Linked DNA regions of Homo sapiens: region 2 is linked to region 1. A link means that fine-mapping ties the variant in region 1 to the expression of a gene that starts in the linked region. Tissue or cell type: whole blood. Region 1 holds a variant in brackets; the other region holds the start of a gene. All regions are shown on one strand. Distances are between the middles of the regions.

The links. PIP is the estimated chance that this variant, and not a neighbour inherited with it, causes the effect.
Region 2: MACROH2A1 starts here. The variant in region 1 is the best candidate, but not a certain one, in a credible set for the expression of MACROH2A1 in whole blood (INTERVAL, PIP 0.85).

The regions. Positions count from the first base shown.
Region 1 is chr5:135,373,667-135,379,037 of GRCh38, reverse strand. All of the region lies in intron 2 of MACROH2A1 (macroH2A.1 histone), which reads left to right. Among named protein-coding and RNA genes, the nearest start is that of MACROH2A1, 23 kb to the left of the region's middle. The variant G/A (reference allele first, on the strand shown) is at 2,162.
Region 2 is chr5:135,395,939-135,401,309 of GRCh38, reverse strand. MACROH2A1 (macroH2A.1 histone) reads left to right here and starts at 2,079. Exons shown (of 9, transcript NM_138610.3): 1 at 2,079-2,248. RefSeq lists enhancers at 822-1,327, 1,328-1,833 and silencers at 1,734-2,193, 2,204-2,373, 2,684-2,743.

The DNA.
Region 1 (5,371 bases):
CATTTATGTTGCCTCTATAAATCTGAGTATTGACTGCTAAAAGTCAATATCTGCTGTTCATTCAGAAAATGAGGGTACTTAACTTGAGTAGCATTGTTTTTCTTGCCCTTTCACTCCCACCCCAGGCCCTGGCAGTCTCTAGTTCATATTCTAACTGTGGCTTGTAATACTAGTTTTAGGGACTTCGGGGGAAGTGCTCTGAATTCTAGGTAAAGGTGGAACAGTTAAGTTCCAAAACATCTGCCGTATGTTGAACAGTTACTGTGTGCTAGGCACTGATTAAATGCTTTACATTTGGTAATTCATCGAATCCTCAAACCACCTAGCTTTCTTAGGAGTAAATTGAGGTTCAGAGTTTAAGTAACTTCTCCAAAATCACACAGCACAGAAACCTTAGCAGTCAGAGGAATTGGACCCCAGAGCACTTCATCCACTTGGCATTTCCTTTGTCTTGAAGCAGCCACCGTACACCTCAGGAAGACTGGTAAATGCCCGGTCCCCAAGGCTGGCTCGATGAAGACACAGCCTGAGGGGACAGACTCTGCAACAGTCATGGGTGATTGCCAGAGACATTCCTGTGGCCTCGTATGGGCAGGGAGGACAGGGGTCCTGCAAGATAGGCCTTGAAGGATAGGCAGCCCTGGACAGGGATGAGGAAAGTCTAGAGCGCACAGGCAGGAGGTGGGTGTGAGCACAGGAGGGGCGAAGTCCCCTGGAGTGACATGTGCTGGCCCGCCGGGAAGGGGCGGTCTGGTGCATGTTAGAGCTGCTGCTGTAGCAGTGGCAGAGCAAGCGAGGTACTGGGCAGAGAGCTGCCCTGAGGAGCCACAGCAGGCGTCGGAGAGGGCAGTGCCCAGTCAGGTATGGGGAGCTTGTGTCACTCAGTGGCACTGAGGAGGGCTGGAGAGTGGGAAGCTTTTTGGCCAATGTCCTTTCATTGTCCCCTTAGCGAAGAGGAGGTGGAATCCTAGGTGTTGGAGCTTAGGCAAATCCTTAGACAAGCAGTCCTCAGCATCGGGAATCCACACCGGCAGACAGCACAGAGGCCAGGCTGGTAAAGACCTCAGGAGCTATAGTGCCCTCTCAGGGGCCTCCCTTTCTATGACACACTCACACTGCTCTAAAAACAGCCATGAAAAAAGAACCTAGAAAGTCTTCGCATGCTCAGAACCATTTTTTGGGAGAAGCAGGATTAAGCAGGCTGGGACAGAGTGTCTGAGGGTAAGGGGGCTTGTGACCTGTGGTACCAAAGGCCAGCTGGGGCAGCCGATAGCAGAAGTGCCTGCAGCTTCTCATCTATCCAGTGTTATAATTATTTTCATTTTGAAAGGAAAATATGCAGAAGATAAATTCAAACAGCACAAAAGGGAGTAGAGCAAAACGTCTCCCTCTGACCAAGTCCCTGATTCTGCTCCCAGTGGGCGAAGCTGCTCCCCTGTCTTGATGAACATGTGTAGCCCGATTGCAGACGTCGCCTCCTCCCCCAACACAGTGCAGCCCACGAAACTCACTGTTCTGCTCCTCGCTCTTTCGCTTTGAGTCCATCTGGGAAACCGTACCATGACAGGGCTCCTTAAATGAGTTTCCTCTTTACATTATACTCTTCAAATCATTTCATTTCAGCAGACATCGCTGATTGTTCACCCCTTCCTGAGATGAATTAAGAACAAATGGCTGTGGTTTTCCCTATCAAAACAAACATACATATTAACCATTTCCTTGTAACTTAATTGAGAGTCCTTGACAGCAAGTGATTGGTGGGTCAGAGGTCCTGCCCAGCTGCCAGCCAGGCCTTGGAGTAGAACAGGTTTCTCAGGGCCTCCCCAGGCACCTTCTCCTTCCCAGGGCCTTGACTTCTACTGCCTGAGCCACTGGCTCTGCACGCTCTGCTGTGGTCAGACAAAAGCCCCAGACCTCATTCCAAGGTAGAGATGCCTGTGGGGGCGCCCTGGGTGCTGTGTTCCATCAAGGCAGGTCTGGCAGCACCGAGGTTAATCGAGTTCAAGTGCATTTTTCAAACATATGTTAACTGTTAAGCATAACAGCAAAGAGTAAACTATTGGCAGAGGAAACACCAGGTTTTCTGTTGCTTTTTTCCTCCTTTTGGCACAAATCCATCCATCGAAATCATCCAGTTATAGATAGAGGAAATCGAGGCAAA[G/A]GAAGTGCAGTTTTCTCCTGGTAATCAAGCTTGTCGCACTTTTTTAACAGTGCAGTTGTAGCCTCAACAGTAGTAGCTTGAATTTACTGAGTATACTAAGCATTTTACTTGGTAACTCATTAATCTCATAAGCCTAGAGGTAACCTCAGGTATCACTCCCCCTGTACAGAATAGGAAACTGAGGCTTAGATGCACTTGGCCACATCTTACAGATAATTACAGGAGCTGGGATCCAAACCCCGACGGTCTGTCAGCAGACCCCGGGCTCTCACCACAGTGCCATTTGCGATTGCTGCCCTCCCCTGCAGACAGAGCGGGCAGCTGAAACAGCACCAGAGGTGAGGAAGGCAGAGGAAAACTTCCTGACAAGGAAGATATTCGGGCACTGAGTTGGGTTGGTGGGTTAGATTAAGGTAATGTTTGCTAAGAATCATAGCTCCCCTGTGTTATTATGTATAATGTAAACTTATTTATTTTTTACTTTGAAATAGGGCTGAAAGTTCCAGTCAGTGGAACTTACTTTACAGATTCCCAAATTAAGCTGCATTTCCATCTTATTGGGAGACTTTGTGGGAAGGCAGAAGACTGGACCAAATGCTGTCTCTGAGACCCCTGGCTCCTCCTGGACTTTTCGGAGGAGTCTGCAGTGGGCTTAACAACAGTAGAGGAGTTTGTGTCAGGCTTGGAACCATCTTTGGAATACTACTTTCAATCACTGCTGTAGGTTTTATTTTCTCTATGGAATTCTGGTTCCTTTGAGGCCCCTGGGACAAGCAGATGGAGAGCTTTGCTGTGGCCCAGAGCTCCCAGCTGATGGCTGGGCAAGCTTCAGACCCTGCCACTCAACCTCCTGAAAAGGTGGGATGGGGGCAATGGATTCTGGGATGCGGCTGCAAACACTCAGAGCCACCAAGGGAATTGGAGGAGGTTGTGGTGTGGTCAGAATGCAGGAAGCTCTTAGCAGTCACCTTCCGATTGGGGTTGATTGGGTTAAGGCCTTCTGGGATGGTGTAAAACAGTTCTGAACTCAAAGGACTGCTGATGGAAGGATGATGAATCGAAAGAAATACAATAAACAGATTCCTTGTCATGTTGTTGGCCTTGTAGCAAACATGTTTTCTCCTTGGGATTACGTGAACATTTGCTTTTCTTTGATTTCTGGTTGTTATTTTCAGTATTTCTTTTGTTAAATGAGCTCTGTTTTACAGAGCTTCAGACAGCTCCGTTAAAGCCCCTGACTCTTTCCTATTGCAAGGGTTGTGTTTAGAGTTTGGCTCAGCCTCAACACATCACCTGTTAGCTGTTAGGAGTCTAATTCTGCAAACCATGACTTCATCTTGCTGAAGGAAGATAGACAAAATGCTTCAATACAACAGATATGTTTTAGTTCAAGACATTTGGAAAAAAGAAAAAGGACCCTAAGCCTTTCGTCTCTGGGTGGACTTGCAAAGTAGACCTGTCAAAGGTATTCATGTTCAGACGGCTGGTCTGTAGTCAAAAAGGCTGCCAAACCATGCTGTTATCCAAGGATGTGGGAATTTTGTCAAGCGGCCTTAAAACAGTCATGTTCAATGAAGCTGGGGAACGTTTGGCCCAGGATGTCCCTGCAGGGCTTGCAGCTCTGAGGAGAGGGAATATGGTTGCATCATCTAGGCCACTACAGATGATGGTGCCAGCCACTCACTAGTTGCCAGAGACTGGCCCTGGCCAGGAGTGAGAACCAGAGGCTTATGTGTTTTGAAAAACAAAAATCTTAGAAGAGTTAATGAGCTGGCCAGTTTGCTCACCATTCAACTTGTTCCCTTTGCACCATTTATAATTGGGAACTTTACCACACTTACAGTCCTCTTCAGAGCAGACCCTAAGCGCCTTGGGCCCCAAATCAGTCTAGTATTGGTCATTGGTAACAAAACTTAGACTGTCACCGACTGAGAATACTTGGCTTGATGGGGTGGAGAACCTGGTAAGGGGTTCTGTTTCTTCTCCTAATTGTTCTTTTCCGTTTCTTCCTGTGGTTTCTTATGGATTCCATTTATTTTGGTTACAGCCTCCAGGCTGTGGCTCCTGAAAATTTCCTTCAAGAGAGAATCCAAGGGCTGAGCTCTGGAAACTCTGGAGAAAAGGATTTTTGTGTCCATAGATCTGGTGTTTTCCTGGTTATCTTTCTCAGAATCGCTTTTCTTTTAGACCAGCCACAGACAAAACAGAGACTCACAAAACCTTCCAAAACATGAAATGAATTGAGTGCAAGAACCCACCCTCCCCCTTGTAGGAAGGCATCGGCTCCATTCACTTTGAGGCAGAGGCTTAAGTTGGCTCTGTTCTAGCCTAGGAGAAAGCCCTCCTTGCTGGTGGGAATGTGAGGGCCATCCCAGTGTGCATGGGGGGCAGGCAGGCATTGCTGTACAGCCCTGAGCCTGGGGCCTCCATGACTTTGCCCTCCATATTATTGCAAAGCAGAGGATCACTTACAGGGAAGAAAACTACATCAGGACATCTCCTTTGGTGACGTGTGCCCTGTCCCAATTCCTCAGCAGTCAGTCACCCTCTCCGCTCCCCCCTGAATAGGAACATGCCCTGGAGAGCAGATGGGAACCGTTCCATCTTGTTGAGTTGCTGGCATTTTGCACCTCTGCTGTCTCTGCAGCAGGCAACTCTTTCTTAGCCAGGAAAGCCCTTTACGATGGCTTTTTCTAAACCTGGACTAAGGATGAGAGGGTGAGTATTACTGATGGTTGGCAGGGGATGAGTGTGTATTCTGGGTTACTGCTTTTGTTAAGTCGGGCACCCTCCATTTTCCCTGGCCATGGTGAAATGCCCCGGCCCTCTGCTGCTGCAGCACAGGAGAGGGGTGGGACACTGAATATACTTCTCATAAAAGGTGTGTTTCTGAGGTGCTCTGTCTTGTGTGTCCCTTAACGATGGGGTTACTATGGTAACTATCCATCTGAAAAAAATGCAAGAGTAAACAGAAGATAAAGCTCTTGCTTAACTAGCTGGAAGGTGGATCTGTGCCCCTCTTTGTTATCCCTACTTGACACAGCTCCCTCCTCCCTACCCACAGGGCTGAGGGCCCACCCTATGGTGGTAGGAGTATGGAGAGGCAGTAATTTTGGCTTGTGCAGATAAAAGATGAGCTGGGGTTTTGCAAAAAGGAAGAGTCTTGGATTCTGGGGCTCCTTGGTAAAGAAGGCAACAGAATGACATCCC
Region 2 (5,371 bases), 22 kb before region 1:
AATGTAGAGTGAGTTTTATTTTTTGAGCATTTTTATTTTTCATGTTTTCAGAATGAGCATAGCTTTGTCATTGGAAAAAAATAAAAAACCTTTAACAGAAGAAGAAGCAATAGCAGCAGCAGCAGCTGGTACCCCTCTCTGAGCCAGATTAGGGGAGGAGACAGGTCACCGAAGTGGAAGAACAGGACACACAAAGCGCAGGAGGAGAGAGGGGAGAGAAGGTGGAGGCTTCTGGAGAAGGATGAGGTCAGAGCTGCTGCACTGAACAGCTCCAGAGGACAAAGGTCCTAGTGTGTTCTATGAGAATGGCACGCTGTAGAGGGGCATGGAGGTGGGGCCGCCCCAAGATCAGCTCTTGGAGGAGTGTAGACTTTAATTCCACCTGGTGGTCCCTACAGAACGGAGAGTCCTTGCCCAAAGGCACAGAGAAGGATGGAACAACAATGTGGTGTGTGGGGGAGGGTCTCTGCACCTTTCCTGACATCTTTTCTTCGGGAGATCCTCATAGAACCATAATGCTTTGTTTTGGGACCAGAAGCATCATAAGCATCATCATTTTTCCAGCTTCATCTCCTGTTACTTTCCCCTTCACCCATTCTACTCCAACCTCACACTCGCTCTGTCTTGACTATTTTGGACACACTCCTACCCCAGCCTTTGCACTTGCTATTCCTCATGCTCGGCGCAGTTCTTCCCCAGACATCCACACGGCTTGCTCCCTCAATTTCTTCAGGCTTTAAATGTTACTTTCTCATAGAGGCCTTCTCTTGTATTTGAGCCTCACTCTTATCTCACACTTCCTATTCCCCTTCTCCGCCTTATTTTTCTCCACCCCATGGAGACCCTCTGACACATTCTCCCGTTTGTCTGTCTTTCCCCCACGAGACTGCAAACTACAGGAGGGCAGAGATTTCTGCCTGTTCTCTTGGCTGTTTCATATCCAGCACCCAAATCGATGTATGACACAAAATACGTTCTCAGTACTTAATCGAATTAACGAATGCATGAATGGCAGGTATTGGACATTGTTTTGCAAACTCTTAAAGTAAGGTGTAAAGCATCCCGGTGAGGTGGAGGTTACTGCCGCTGCGATTCCCGCGCAGCCTGAGGACTGGGGGGTGGGGGTGGGGGTCTCTAATTACCTCCATAATCCCCAGTAGCGGCACTTTAAACTTCACATCAACCCTGAGGGATGTGTATTATTATCCAAATTTAGTTCACAGCTGGATGGAGAAGTGGCTTCCGGCTCCACACTTTGGAGGGAGGGGAGTAGAGGGCAGGCCCCCATTTAAGTACCCGGGATGGGGCACCAATGCCTTCAGGCGGTAAACCAATTTAGGAAGACGTGGCGGGCTTTGTGGCGGCTCCTCCTCTTTCGGCCTGTCCGCAGTTTTTAAAAAACGTGTGTGATGATAAGGAATCACTGTCTACATTAGTAATTCCCAACTTGGGTCCGAAAGTGAACTTTTGCTGAAGCGAAGTAGCTAACCGCTTCCATGTGCAAGGCAGGTTCCAGACTTCGGGGTGAGGAGGATTAACTGAAGGACCCCAGGGGAACCGGGTGCGCAGTAATTGATCTTGGGGCAGACCAGGGCTTGGCGGTGGCCTGTATCTAAAGACAGCGGGGTCTCTGAGGCGGGGCAGGGGGGAGTTGGCATTGACTGGGGAGGGAAGAGCGATCGCTGGTAACAGCCATTGTGCCTTCCCACTGGGTTAGTGGGAAGGTTCCTAAAGATGCCGTGGCAGCGACAGTCCCGTGCTCAGAGCCAGGCACACAGTAGGCGTTCACTCGAGACGCAGAGTCTGGGACGCGCCCTGAAGAAGCTCCTCTCCAGGGGCCTGGCCCTTCCCAAGGACTGGGCTCTGGGCGTCCCCGGGGTCATGGGTCAGACCTCGCGTCCGGGGTGCGGGCTGGTGCCTGGGCGCAGAGCGGCCGGCGTCAACGGGTAGGGCGCGGGCCCGGGGTCAAGGCCGGGGCGCCGGGCGGCACGGGCGCGGAGGCCGGACGCTCGGGGCCGCGAAGGGATGTGACGAGCGGCGCGCTGTGCATTGTGGGAAGCCGGCCGCGAGGACTGGTTCCAGTTCACTCGGCAGCGGCGCCGGGCGGAGGGGGAGAGCGCGGGCCGCGCGGGCGGGAAGCGAAGAGGCGGGCGGGCCAGCGAGGAGCGCGGAGAGAAAAGGCGCGAGCGGCCAGGAGGGCTCAGGCCGAGACACCTTGCAGCTGCCGCCGCCGCCACCGAGCCGCCGCGTAAGTGCCGCGCGGGCCCCCTTGCCGCACTCCCTGTCCCCGCCGCTCGGGTCCGGCCGCGGGTGCCCGGGAGCGGCCCGGCCTGGCGCGCACCGGTGTGGTGCGGGCCGGGCTCGGGCCGCCGGGTTCGGTGTGGCCCACGCCGGGTCCTCGCGCGTGCACTACGTCCTCCCAGGCCTTGTCGGGCCGCGCGGGATTCCCTTTGGTTTTGTTCAAAAAAGAAACCTGGAAACCAACTTCTCTTCGAAACGCATCCCCCTGCCCGCGCCTGGGCGCTTTTGTGGGAAAAAAGCGGTGCTGGCGCCTACCCTGGCGACCCTTCCTGGGGCGGGCTCACGGGCCAGGCCCGAGGCCGCAGGAGGCCCCGCGGCGCTGGCTAGGCAGTCTGGGCCTGGGCACCCGGGAGCTGCTGTGAGCAGAGTTGTACTTGGTGAGGCCCCCGCCGGCCCGCGAGTTGCCGGCCCCGGCACAATAAGTCGGGCCCGAGCCCCGGGGGGCCGAGGTGTAGGCGTCTGGCTCGCTATCTGCAGGGAGGGGAAGGCGGGGGCTACTCGCGGGATTGAAGCCGGGCTGGTGCGGGGGACCGGGTTGGGGAGTGGTCCAAGGATGGGCTGGAGAGGGGCCACGGGAACCCCCGCTGCTCCCGATTGTCTCGGTATCAGCCTTTTGTTTGCTTTGTGGTAGGAAGGGTTTGCTTTTTTTAAAAGGTAACTCCGGAAGGCTGTAGGCTTCCCCGGGTGGAGAAGGCCAGCAGGAAAGAGCCTCGCTGGGGGTGGGGTGGAGTGGGGAGGTGAGTGTGCAGGATGCTGCTGGCAGTGTCACCTGACAACAGGTGTGCGACATGGCGCTCCCTACCCCCACTCCTGCAGGGGCCACAGATCACTCAAGGAGTTGGTCAGTACATTGCTTGAAAGGTTCTTTTAGACAAGATGTTAGGGGAAATGTTTCTGAGTTTCAAAGTGAGAGACTTCTGTACAAACAACTGGGACAAACCTTGAATTCAACAATTACAATGACTATAAAGGCCTTGTAAGATTTTAATGACCCAGTAAACAGCACATAAGAATAGACAATTAGAGGGGGCACTCCTGCTAGCTTCCCTCTTTTCTTCCACCTTTGTGGTTTGAGGTTTTACCGTTAAAGTAGGGGGTAAGGGAAGTGTTTTGTTCCAAAGCTCCCTGCTCCAGGGAGTCGGGCATTTTTTAACAGTCTTAGGTTTGAATGGGAGACTCGAGTTGTAAATTAGGTGGAATTCACCTACTGCAGGCCACCTTTAGGCTACTAGCCTGTTGTCAGAGGTGTTAACTCTGAAATGGACACCTCTTGCCTGCAACTGGAATTAATACCCATTGTACACATTTAACTAGAGTTGGGCAGCAGCATCTCAGTCTTGCACAAGAGACTCTCTGATGAGGATGAGTATGTTTTCAAACTTATTTTTTCTTAAACACAACAAAACTCTTGAAAGACTTCAAATTCTTCCCCCTTCTAGTTTTACAAGGAGAGAGAAATCTTTCCAGTCTGTTCTTTGGCTTCGATCTGTCACCATTGTTAATGCTGATCCCTAGATAAGGCATTAAGAGGGTTGTCTAAATGAAAATTGTTTGAGGCAGGCCTTTAGAAGGAGGCATAATTTAACTCACATTTTATTAAACTTTAAGAATTGTCTGGAACTTCACATGTGACATTCTAGTATACAACCATGCCACTGGTTTAGTTTTTACCAAATGGGCCAGTGTCAGGGAGTGACACATCTCCATCTGATGTTTCTTCTGGTCCCTGAGAGAGGCGAACTTGAGGAGCGCCTCGCATTCCTTCCCCACTGAGAAGCTCAGAGGGCATGTGTTCTGGGACCTGCCTTCAGAGCTAATGCGGCCCCAAGTCACCTAAAGGAGATTTATTTAAATAAAAGCATAAACTGAAAACCTCAAGCCGAAGAACCCAACAAGACTCTATATGTGTTGTTCATCAGAACTGCAACAGCCTCTGGTTTTATTTGAGTGTCCCCAAGGATTTGTGACAGCCTTTTCAGAGCCCCATTCCTAGAACATGGGCTGGGAAGGGGCAGGAGTGATTGGGGCCCAGATCTCTGTGGGTCCTTCCCATATTCTGTAGGTTTAGAGGTCTTTTGGGCCCTGCCTCAGTGCTTACAAGTGAGCCTGAGTGAGTCAACTCTTCATTCCAAAGAGTTGTATAGCTTGTTTGCTTGGACCAAACCTGTCAGGTCAGTGTCTCAGAGTCTTTCCATAAAGATTTCCTGAGAATCAGCTCCTGTTCAGGCACTGGGGACACAGCCGTGATTAAGAAATGCCTAGCCCCTACCTTGGGGGAGCTGACTTTGGGAGAAGGCAGGCAAGTAGCTGTTGTAAAATCAGTGCAAAAGGCCCCACGTAGCCCCCCAGCAGGTACAGTAACCTAGCCAGGAGTGAGCCCTTATCTGGCTTGGAAAGGTCAAGCAGGAGATGGCTGGGCAAAGGAGGGCAGATGGGGACAAGTGTTTGAGGCCTGGGGAACCCCATGTGTGCATCTTAGAAGAAAAGAACAGAGGTCATGTGGGGAACTGCCAGAGGCTCGGGATGGCTGAGTCCTGGTGCGGAGTCAGGTGAGGCTTCAGGGAGGGACAAACAGGACAAATCACAAAGGATTCTGGTCAGACCCACACTTTATCCTAAGAGCAACTGAAGGGTTTTGAGCAGGAGAGAGACAGGATCAGGTGTTCTTTTTATTCTTATTGGGAACACGTCTACTCGGCAAATAATGAGTGGATTCTACATGCTAAGCCTTATCAGAGTCCTGTCCTGTGAAGCCCACACTTTAACTTTTCTCTAAATAGCCTTCCGTGAGACTGGTTATCTTAAGAGTTTGGCACAACCTTTAAAAGAGAGAGGAGTATGTAGAAAAGTTTTTTTGTAAAGCAGGCAGGCAGTAACTTGCTGTTAAAATGTAGCAAGCTGCACAGTTCCTTCAGTGCATCTCGGGAAGCGCATCACCGAATGGGTTTGCAGAGGTGAAATTTCAATCCCAGACTAGCTTCCCCAAAACTGTTTCTTGCTTGTGGTAAATGACATTTGTGTTTGTGTTTTGTTTCTTCCTGCCACTGAAAACATAACAGGAGTAAGACAC